4 separate regions of the Homo sapiens genome follow, and all the other regions are linked to region 4. The links come from fine-mapping of genetic effects on gene expression. A gene starts in region 4. Each other region holds a variant in brackets. All regions are shown on one strand. Distances are from middle to middle.

Region 1 (2,690 bases), 75 kb after region 4:
TGAGGCTGTACATGAGATCCCCAGAACTTATTCAGCTTATAGCGGAATGATTGTACCCTTTGACCAACATCTCCCTGGGCAACTACCATTCTACTCTCTGTTTCTATGAGTTTAACTAGTTTAGATTCCACATCGTATTAGGCTGATCTCACACTGCTATAAAGAAATACCTGAGACTAGGTAATTTATAAAGAAAAGAGGTTTAATTGGCTCACGGTTCTGCAGGCTGTACAAGAAGCATAGCGGCTTCTGCTTTTGGGGAGGCCTCAGGAAGCTTTTACTCATGGCAGAAGGCAAAGCAGGAGCAGGCACAGGAGAGAGAGAGGGGAGGTACTACACACTTTTAAACAACCAGATCTCACAAGAACTCACTACTAGAACAGCACCAAGGGGATGGTGCTAAACTATTCCTGAAGGATCTACGCCCATGATCCAGTCACCTCCCACCAGGCTACACCTCCAACACTGGGGATTACAGTTCGACATAAAATTTGGGCAGGGACAGAGATCCAAACCATATCACACATATAAGTGAGTCTATGCTGTATATATCTTTCTGTGTCTAGTTTATTTTGCTTAGCATAATGTTCTCTAGGTTCATTTATGTTGTCACAAATGGCAGAATTTTCTTTTTTATGGCTGAATAATATTCTATTGTGTATATGCACCATGTTTTCTTTTTCTTTCTTTCTTTCTTTCTTTTTTTTTTTTTTTTTGAGTCAGAGTCTTGCTCTGTCGCCCAGGCTGGAGTGCAGTGGTGTGATCTTGGCTCACTGCATGCTCCACCTCCTGGGTTCACAGCATTCTCCTGCCTCAGCCTCCCGTGTAGCTGGGACTATAGGTGCCCGCCACCACACTCCGCTAATTTTTTGTATTTTTAGTAGACACAGGGTTTCATCGTGTTAGCCAGGATGGTCTCGATCTCCTGACCTCGTGATTCGCCTGCATTGGCCTCCCGAAGTGCTGGAATTACAGGCGTGAGCCACCATGCCCGGCCTGCACCACATTTTCTTTATTCACTTGTTGATAGACATTCAGATTGTTTCCAC[G/A]TCTTGGCTATTGTGAATGATGCTGCAGTGAACATGAAAGTGCACATATCCCTTCAAGATCATGATTTCATTGCTTTTGGATACAATAACCCGAAGTTGGATTGCTGGATCCATATGGTAGTTTTATTTTTAATTTTTGGAGGAAACTCAATAAATTTGGAGGAGACACCATTTCCATAACGGTGGTACCAATTTATATTCCCACCAATGGTGTACAAGGGTTCCCTTTTATCTACATTCTTGCCAACATTTGTTATTTTCGTCTTTTTGGTAATAGCCATTCTAACTGGAGTGAGATTAGATCTCATTGTGGTTTAGATCTGCATTTCCCGAATAATTAGTGATGTTGAGGATTTTTTTTTTTTAATATACCTGTTGTTCATTTGTATATCTTCTTTTGAAAACTATCTGTTTAGGTCCTTTGACCATTTTTAAACCGAGTATTTAAGTTTTTTTTTTGCTATCGAGCTTTATGAATTCCTTAAATATTTTGGGTATTAACCCCATATCAGCTGTATGGTTTGCAAATATTTTCTCCCAACAACAGATTTGTTTTTAGTGTGATAAATCCATATTTTTGCCCAACCTGTGAAATAATTCAAACATGCAAGAATCCAGACTGGCAGCCACTTGGAAAATGTTGCCAGCCTCCAGCTCTTTCTGGGCAGCACCTTGAGAATTGCTGTGATAATTACCTAGTGGTGGTTCTTAACTCTGGTTGCACATTAAAATCACCTGGGAAACTTTTAAAGCCTTCTCATTCCAGACCAATTAAATACAAAATTCTAGGGATAGGGCCTAGGCACCAGTGATTTTTTTTTTTTTTTTTAAAGATCTTCAGGTGATTCTAACATACAACCAAGGTTTAGAATCAGCGGCTTACTGTCATGTTGGGTTACTGTTGGAGTCCGAATGCCCTAATAACAAGAAGCAGAGGTGAGCACCCGCTCTGCTCCTCACAGCCCTCTGCTTTTTGTCTGATTGGAGTTATATAAAGCCCAAGTGGAACTAAGACTAAGCACGGTAATTGTCATGGCAATGCCCTAGATTTTCCTATCAAATCCAATCTTATTTAGGGTGGGAGACACAGAAGTGACTCTTGTGAAGTTAAAATACTTCTGCCCCTATTTAGAATATTCAACATTAAATTTGACAGAGTTTTGCCATGAAATTTCAAATACCAAAACTTTTAAAAACAGCAGATCTCACCTGAACCACAAAAGTTTATCATTAATTGTAAAGTGTGCTTGATCTCAGAGAATTATCCAGGCAATCAGCATCATGCATAGCCTTTAATGCCTCTGTCTGTGGAGCATGAGTTCTGCATATTGATCACAAATCTGAAAATTTCTCTGCTTATGCCTCATCACTCCTGTCTTTGATTGAGTATAACATAAATGGAATTTGAAAATCATGGAGCTGGGGGGGACCTGTGGAAATTATTTTGTCTAGTGCTTTGCCTTTACAATTGTATGTCTAATCTACTAACACAGTCAGGCTACCAAGGTCCCTTGTTAAATTCATGAATGCCCTAGCATGGACAACTGCAACATCCTTCTAACTGGCTCTGTCTTCCTGTTCCCCTTTTCTCCATGTTACAATCAGAGTAATCTTTCTAAATACAAATCAGGTCATTCTCAT
Region 2 (2,690 bases), 47 kb before region 4:
AAGGAATAAGCCAAGAAGTAACATTGTGCAGAGATTAATAAAATATTGTTTAAAACACAGATACTGAGTTAATATAACAGGGAAGAAAACATTGCAAAATAGAACAAAACAGCCATAGGTTTATAATATAGTGATATTGATCACAGATTTTCCTAAGTACTCCAGGGCAGCCACACTATTATATATGCCTCTGATTAGACCCAGAGATGAGAAGGAAAAAGTTATTAAAAAAAAAAAAAAAAAGAAAGAAACTAACCAGGGGAAGGCCTGCTGCTATAATAAATTATTTAAAGCAAGCAGGGTGAGCAGGTTGTGAGGACAATATAAAACAGAATCAATGCCCCCAAGAAACCCCAAACCGTCTGCACCTCTATAAATTTCTTACCACCCTGTCTGGCATTTTACTGGAGGTATTTCTTTTCCACCATCCTACCCACCCCACCCCTGACCCTTCACTTTTTGCCCAGTTCTTTTCTCAGAGCTTAACATTTGTTTTCCTTCTGTAACCCAGGATGCTGTCTTCAGTTATATTTTTCAGCTTGTATCAGGAGAGTGTCTGTGAGGCCACAGATGAGTGCATCTGTCACTTCATTCATCTGAATCTTAAATTTCCCCACTGACACTGTAAGCTGGGAATATCTAATATGACACACATATCAACATGACTTCAGTATTATCCTTCATCTTTTTCTTTCTTCTTACTACTGCTATCATTAAATCCACAAGCTTAAGCTGTTGTGAAACTTCTGTAGCTCAATGACTGTCGTATATTAGAGGATATTACTAGACCCAAAAAGCTAAAGTGAAGGTTGGGAACTTAAGGGGGCATTTCGGAGGAGAAATGGTAAAATGGCTAAAATGGAAGAACTGGGAGATGTTAAGAGGGCAGACTGATTTAAAAAGTGAATTTTTTACAAGGAGATTTTGCTATGGGGATAAGGGTAAGAAAAGAAGCATAAAAAACTTGAAAAGAACTTGTCAAAGGAAAGTTAGATGCCAGAAGAATGCCATAGCTAAAAAAAAAAAAAAGTTATAATAGAATTGTTGCTTAGAAGCTTGCAATGACCTATGGCCCAGTTTCAAGAAAAGCAGCATTCTACTATAGTTTTTGTAACTGGGCAGAAATCAGTCCCATTGTATGATCAGGGGCTGTGGATAGTATATTTTAGGCTTTTCCATTTTTCTAAGTCTATCCAATCACACAGAAGCTAGGCAAATAAAAGCAACCCTATTTTGCCAGAGTGAAAACATTAGCAGCTTAACATGACAACAGACAAAACAGCACAGGGCTAAAACACATGTCTAAAGGATTCTATACGTAGGCTTTGCCGCTTTTGTAATCTGGGACTTTTAGCAAATTATTTGCCTCTCTGGGTCAAGACTGTCTGGTTAAGGTCAGGGTCATTGAACTAATTATTATATATGGTAGTTAACTTTATAAAGAAAACTACTACAAGGTCACATTCAATATAAGAAACAATTTGAAGAAAAAGGTTAAAAAATTGTAGATGATATGAACGACTAAGCATAACCCTATCATATCACCAC[A/G]ATCCTAAATCAAAACAATTTAAGTTGCAAGGCCAACTTCTCAGTTATTGGTGTCATCTTTGAATGTGAAAGACAAGATCTAAATATTATCCTTTTGTAGCTGCAGTTTGCTCATCTGTAACAAAGTGGAAAAAAATCATTGTCCTCAAAGGATTGTTAAGGTAAGTGACCTATCAACATGCCTGCCAAGTGCTTCTTTAAACAGAAATTACTCTGTAAAAGTTCCAGTGACGATCCAGTGGTCTGGAACAATCCAAGTTTAATACCCTGGCCTATACACATCCTTTTGTTATCAGGATACTTCTCACCTCTGAAAGAAGTCATTTGTTTTTTTAGCTACTTGGATGGTAGAAAGAGGGAAGGGTAACTTCTGATAGATCCTTTCTCTTTCAAACCTTATTTAGTAGTCTTAAATGGAGAATTATGCCAGTCTGAAATGGGAGAACAGAATCCAAATGTCAGTATCAAATGATAAATAAAAAACTAATTGGCAATAACTAATAAAAATTCACAGTGCTCTCAGTGAAAGGGGAGGTAGCAAACAATTCTCAACCCACATCTCTGTGACAATGAGAAAATCTATTTACCCAATTAATTGGGCAGCTCAAAATACTCCTAAGGTGACTTTCAGAAAGTAAGAATCTCTGGGCCTCTGGGTGGGTGGCCTGGGACACTCTTCCTGGCCACAAGCAAAATAGTCACAGCTTCCCAAGGCGATCATTGACCTCATATAGTCTGTAGTAGCCCAGCTGAGGTGCTGGGCTTTGTTCTAGAACAGCTTTTAAAGAGAAAAAGGGTGCCTCATGAAGATAAGGATTCTACCTTGCAGGAGGAAATGCTCAACCATGTGAATTAGGACTGGCAAAGTCACCCCAGAGCATCCCAGGACCCCACCGAACTCAGAGTGGGGGGTGAAGGAACTAAGACTGGGGTTTGTGGGGTGGGTCTTAAATTCATCAGGTCTTGTTTCATCAGGCAGACTTCCTTAGAATCAGGGCCAACCTGGAATAGGGATAGCTGAGGATTCCAAAACACTTTCAGATGTAAGACAAAAGGGGTCCATTGTTGAAGACAGAGAGTTAATGCATTACCTATAAATTTCACAAGGCCAGTAAATGCCACCTGGACATTTCTCAACAATT
Region 3 (2,690 bases), 210 kb before region 4:
CTACAGGGAGGGGTGTCTAAAGTGAAATACTCCTGGAGAACAAGACCAAAATAGTGAAGTTAAATATGTCTTCGTCCAATAACCCAGCACTCCCACTGGTGGACACTGATGCACTGAAACTTTCTGACAGGCTCATATGTGGATGAGCACGAGGATGTCCATCACAGCACTGTTGGCTGGGTCAGGGAGCTGGAGGTAACATTAAGGGAATGGAAAAGTAAAATGGAATCCCAAACAGCCATTAGCAATGAGGTAGCACACGCAGCAACATGGAGGCATCTTAGAAACAGTGTTCAGTGAAAAAGGACAGTTGTAATATCGTTGATGTAAATTAAGACATACTTACAAAACAATATGTTTTGCAAAGAAGCATACATATTCAATTTATAATATCAAACATATTAGAGAGTGGGTGCCTAATGGAGGAAGGAAGGAGATAGGAGTGGAGATTAGAAGTGAAAGGGAAAATATTTAAAACTAGTGGCTGAGTCCATGCTCTGATTGCATGGTTCTGAATCCCAGCTGTGCCTCTAACTAGCTCTGTTACCTTGGGCAATTAACAACCTCTTTAGTTAAGTGTCCTCATCCCTAAAATGGGCTGGGGACGATAGGCGAAGACGGGCTCCAAAAAATTCTGTCCTGCCCTGTCTGCGTGTAGCTCCTCCCACAAGAGGCGGGCCTGTGACTGCTTTGACCAATAGGATACAGAGTAAGCACTGCCCTGGGACTGCCTAGCCCCGTGTTTAAGCAGGAGCCTTGGGCCGCTGCCACTGCCATTTCACGGAGTCCTACAAACAGCTGCCACGTGGAGAGGCGGGCCACATGGAGCAGCACTGTGCCATCGGACTGTGTAAGACACCTGGCAGAGGTACTGCCCAGCTGTGGCCAGATCAACCCGTGGAATAATGAGATACAATAACGTAGTTGTTTTGGACCACTAAGTTCTGTTACGTGGCACTAGATAAGGTTATGAGGATTAAATAAAGTAATTTTATTTTTTTCTCTTTTGACACAGGGTGTCGCTCTGTCCACCAGGCAGGAAGTGCAGTGGCGCCATCTCGGCTTACTGCAGCCTCGACCTCCGGGGCTGAAGTGATCCTCCCACATCAGCCTGTTGAGTAGCTGGGTCCACAGGTGCATACCGACACACCTGTCTAATATTTTGTATTTTGTGGAGAGCTGGG[G/T]GTCTCACCGTGTTGCCCAGGCTGGTCTCGAACTCCTGGGCTCAAGCCATCTGCCGGACTCAAGCCATCTGCCTGCCTCAGGCTTCCAAAGTGCTGGGATTGCAGGCGTGAGCCACCGCGCCTGGCCAGGAGGTAAGTTTTAAAGTGTTGGATAGGGCCGGGCTCATTGGCTCACGCCTGTAATCCCAGCACTTTGGGAGGCCAAGGCGGGCGGATCACGAGGTCAGAAGTTCGAGACCAGCCTGCCCAACATGGTGAAACCCCACCTCTACTAAAAAAAAAAAAATAATAAAATAAAATAAATTAGCTGGGTATGGTGGTCGCGCGCCTGTAATCCCAGCTACTCGGGAGGCTAAGGAAGGAGACTTGGGCCTCCATAGCCGTTTCAAGACGCCCTAGAAACAGATGCCACGGACTGAACCCCGGAGGTGGAGGTTGCAGCGAGCCGAAATTCCCCCACTGCACTCCAGCTCTGTACGACAGAGTAGGATTTTGTCTTAAAAAAAAAAAATCAAAGTGCTGGATAGTGCATGGCTCATGAGAAGGGCCTGGCACTATATACATATTTGTGGAATAAAAAACAAGGACCTAATGGTCACAGAAATAGTGTCATGACCAAAAATGTAAGATTAACTTAATTCTTTGCACATGATGTTCACAGATAAGCTAAAACCTCTGCTAAAGACTCATATATTCATTTCCTTGATGGGAAAACTATGGCCCTGATTGATAGATGAAAAGTGTATTCCAAAAAAGAGAGTGTCTCATAACGAAGCAGGGCTCCCTGAGCCAACTCTCCTTCTGTTGTCTTTGTGCACAGAATTTAGAGCCTCAAGAAAGCATTGGATGTATGAGCTCAGTGACTCACGAATGTCTCATTTCTGGGAACACAGACAACTGATGGGCTATATTCGTTTTCCTCTGTAGCACTAGACCCAGAACTAGCAAATTTTTATCTGTAATGAATTCTCAATTAACCCTAGGTCTTGGTATCAGGAAATACAGGGAAAATAAAAATCTACCCATAATTCAAAGATCTCAATCAAATCAGTAATTTCAACCTCCAGAAAGTTATCTTAATAGTTCTTTTTATTCCCAAGCACAGTGCACAATAAATATCTGTTGATTATTTAAAATTAATCCCTCTTCCATTTGAATAAGAGTTAAAACAATTTGTTTATGGTCTTTCAAATTGATTATTAAAATTGTTCTTTGAAACCCTGGCTAGGGCAAAATAACCTAGATGGTAGCAACAGTGAGTGAAAGGATAGAAAGGGAGTGGCACCACTGTTCATCTGTGAAGCGGGAGCTAAGCCTTGTGAATCTTACAAGAACTATATGAGGTAGATACTGTCTCCATTTTACAGGAGCAAAAACTGAGGCTTAGGTAGATGGGGTCACTTTTCTGCAATCTGCAGCTGGGGCATTATGGAGCCAGGATTCAAACTCACGTCTTGGCTGTGCATGGTGGCTCATGCCTGTAATCCCAGCACTTTGGGAAGCTGA
Region 4 (2,690 bases):
GGATCCTGCCTGTTTAAAGCACCAGCCCCACCAATCTTAATTTTCACAACAGGGTCTTTCTGGTTCCAGGCAATTCCTCAGCAGAGCAGGACGCAGGTTATTGGGCTACGATATTTCACACAGAACCATGATTAGTTCTGCTTTGCCCCAGTATTATCATAATTATCCAATATTTCCAGGGTGTATCTTTTTTCCCCGTGTTTTAAATCTTTCTAATTACCTATAATGCACCCCAATGTATACAGCTCCAAATATTGGTAGAGAGCTTCACATGCATTTTTATAAGCTAGTCCTCAGAATATGACCAAATGAGAAGACTGCGACCTCTAATAGACACCTCAACTTGTTCAGCATTGTGCACCAAGGCATAGCTCTAGTGGCTGCTTAAACAAGACAATGTATACTAATTCTGGGAAATGCGCTAGAAAGTATTGGGATATAACAGATCTTAGACACCATCTCTGTCCTTGAGGAATTGAGAATCTTGGGGTCAAGCTAAGGCCATACTATGGATTTTTTTTTTAAGGGCACTAAAATATAAAGTACCACATATACACTATTTATTAATAAACAAGAATAAAGATCACCCAAGCAAAACATTCCCTGTGAAAGACAGCCTTAGAAACAGTCACAAGCCTAACTCACAATGACATTTTAGTGGGGACTTTTCTACCCTTGGACTTATTAAAAAACTGTATGAGCTGCTATTTGTCAGAAGTGAATATCTGTTGAGAATGTACAGTTTCTGATTTATTCTCTCATTGTTCAGTACCCAGAGGGCTGCTTTTGCCCAATAAGGCTGAGAGGAGATCCAGACAGCTCATCCAGAGAGCCCCGGCACTCACAATGTTCCCTGCTGCACCTTTCAACCTTTTCACCCCAATTAAAGGTCAACATGGCTGCTCAAAAATATTTATTTAAAAAGGCAGTCAGCTCAGCGGGCTCCCAAGTGTGATTACACTACCACTTCATAGAATTCAATTAAACCCGGGACGGGGCATCGGCGAATCACTGGAGGAGTATGAAGTTGAGATGTTTTCTGCTTTCTCGAGATGTTTTCTGCTTTCTCTTAAAAAAAAAAAAAGCTTCCTTTTCCCGCCCGTCATTTATTTACTTCCCAGAGCGCTATCACAGACACACACACACGCGTTTATAATCTCCCCCAAGTAGTTCATGGATTTATGGCTCCCGGTTTAATTAAATTCCGTATAACGACTATCCAAATGGGCAGCACGCGGCACAGCGAACCCCCGCCAGCCTGCGCGTCAGCTCAGAGGCGGAGACCCGCGAGCGCTCACCCTCGGCGCGGGACTAAGGGAACCCACCTGAGCCTCACGCCGCCAACGCCTCTGCTTCCGCCCTGCGCCGGGCACTTCCGCCCGCACCCACCAGGCGCCGGCCCCAGGCCCCGCACTTCCGCCCCACGCCGGCAGCACTGCCGCTGGGCGTTCTATCTCAGGTGGTGTCCCGTCTACGCTCTCAAGGGTGGCCGCGCCTGAACCTTTACTCGTGAAGAGTGACACACAAACCAAGGCCAAACTAAAAAACAAAATACGGAAAAGTGACCCCGCATGTTTGGGAACCATTTAATAAGAGGCCTCAGGTGCGGGAGCCAACTTTTTGAGGCTGCGGAGTCCGAGCCATTTTAACCGCTCTGCATGCATCCATTCTTTCGTTAATTTAATATTTACTGCCTCCTCCACTAGGTCTTGGCTGAACTAGGTTATGGGGAATGCGATGAGCAAAACTGGCAGCCGTACCCTCCCGCAAACTGAAAATCGTGTGAGAAAGCAGATATTAGGAAATTATCCCTTATTAAATAGGCCATGGGTTTATTCAGCTAAGTGCTTTGCAGGGAAGGAATATGAGAAAAGACCTGAGTGGGATCTCGTTGAAGAGGTAGCTTTGGGGCTGGGATCTGAAGGGCGTGGGTTGGGGACAGAGCTCTGCAGGCTGGGGGAAGGGTCTGGTGGAGGATGTGCAGTATGGGTTGTATGCGGAAGACTGACGAGTATGGCTGAGACTTAGAGGGAATGGGGAAGAGAGGTGGAAACAGGCTAGAGAGGGTAAGCGAGAGTCTGGCCATGCAGGGCCTTTCAGGTTTGTGCTAAGGGTAGCCGGGGGGCATTTCTGTTTTATGTGGGAAGGGGATTGAACTGATTGCTTTTCCCTTCTGAAAGGACCCCTTAGCTTTGGGAAGTAGATGGGAAGGGTTTAGGATAGGCAAGAGTAGAACAAGCAGGGAGGTGAGGAAGCTACTGAGCATTCCAGGTTCTAGGTGTGGTGGCTTGAATGGTGGTACAGTAAATAATGAGAAAATGATGGATAATAATTATAGTAATACTCAAAGCTAACATTTATTGATTGCTCACCAAAAGCTTTATACTCATTAGTCTGTTTAATCCTGAGAACAATGCAATTAAGTATTACTAGTACCATTTTACAGATGAAGTAATGGAGGTTTAATAACTTGCTCAAGTTCTCACAGTTACAAAACGGTAGATTTGGAATTCCATCTCATGCTGTCTGACGCCTTAAGCTTACCACTATAAATTCAATGTGTACTCAGTGGTTTTAAAAAAGATACAAAGCAAACCAAGGTCAGGAATGAATTCTTTAAACAAACCACACTGATTATGTGATGTCGCTAGAGGCCACATTAAGATAGTAGAATTTACAAGTTCTTTGTC

What was found.
Region 1: its variant is fine-mapped to the expression of C5orf63 in lung (TOPMed, PIP 0.96).
Region 2: its variant is fine-mapped to the expression of C5orf63 in whole blood (INTERVAL, PIP 0.93).
Region 3: its variant is fine-mapped to the expression of C5orf63 in whole blood (TOPMed, PIP above 0.99).

What each region holds. Positions count from the first base shown.
Region 1 is chr5:127,147,123-127,149,812 of GRCh38, forward strand. No RefSeq gene overlaps it. Among named protein-coding and RNA genes, the nearest start is that of C5orf63, 75 kb to the left of the region's middle. The variant G/A (reference allele first, on the strand shown) is at 1,050.
Region 2 is chr5:127,025,083-127,027,772 of GRCh38, forward strand. All of the region lies in intron 1 of MARCHF3 (membrane associated ring-CH-type finger 3), which reads right to left. Among named protein-coding and RNA genes, the nearest start is that of MARCHF3, 4.1 kb to the right of the region's middle. The variant A/G (reference allele first, on the strand shown) is at 1,549.
Region 3 is chr5:126,863,461-126,866,150 of GRCh38, forward strand. No RefSeq gene overlaps it. Among named protein-coding and RNA genes, the nearest start is that of LMNB1, 88 kb to the left of the region's middle. The variant G/T (reference allele first, on the strand shown) is at 1,185.
Region 4 is chr5:127,072,126-127,074,815 of GRCh38, forward strand. C5orf63 (chromosome 5 open reading frame 63) reads right to left here and starts at 1,377. Exons shown (of 5, transcript NM_001164478.2): 1 at 1,326-1,377. RefSeq lists a silencer at 1,234-1,453.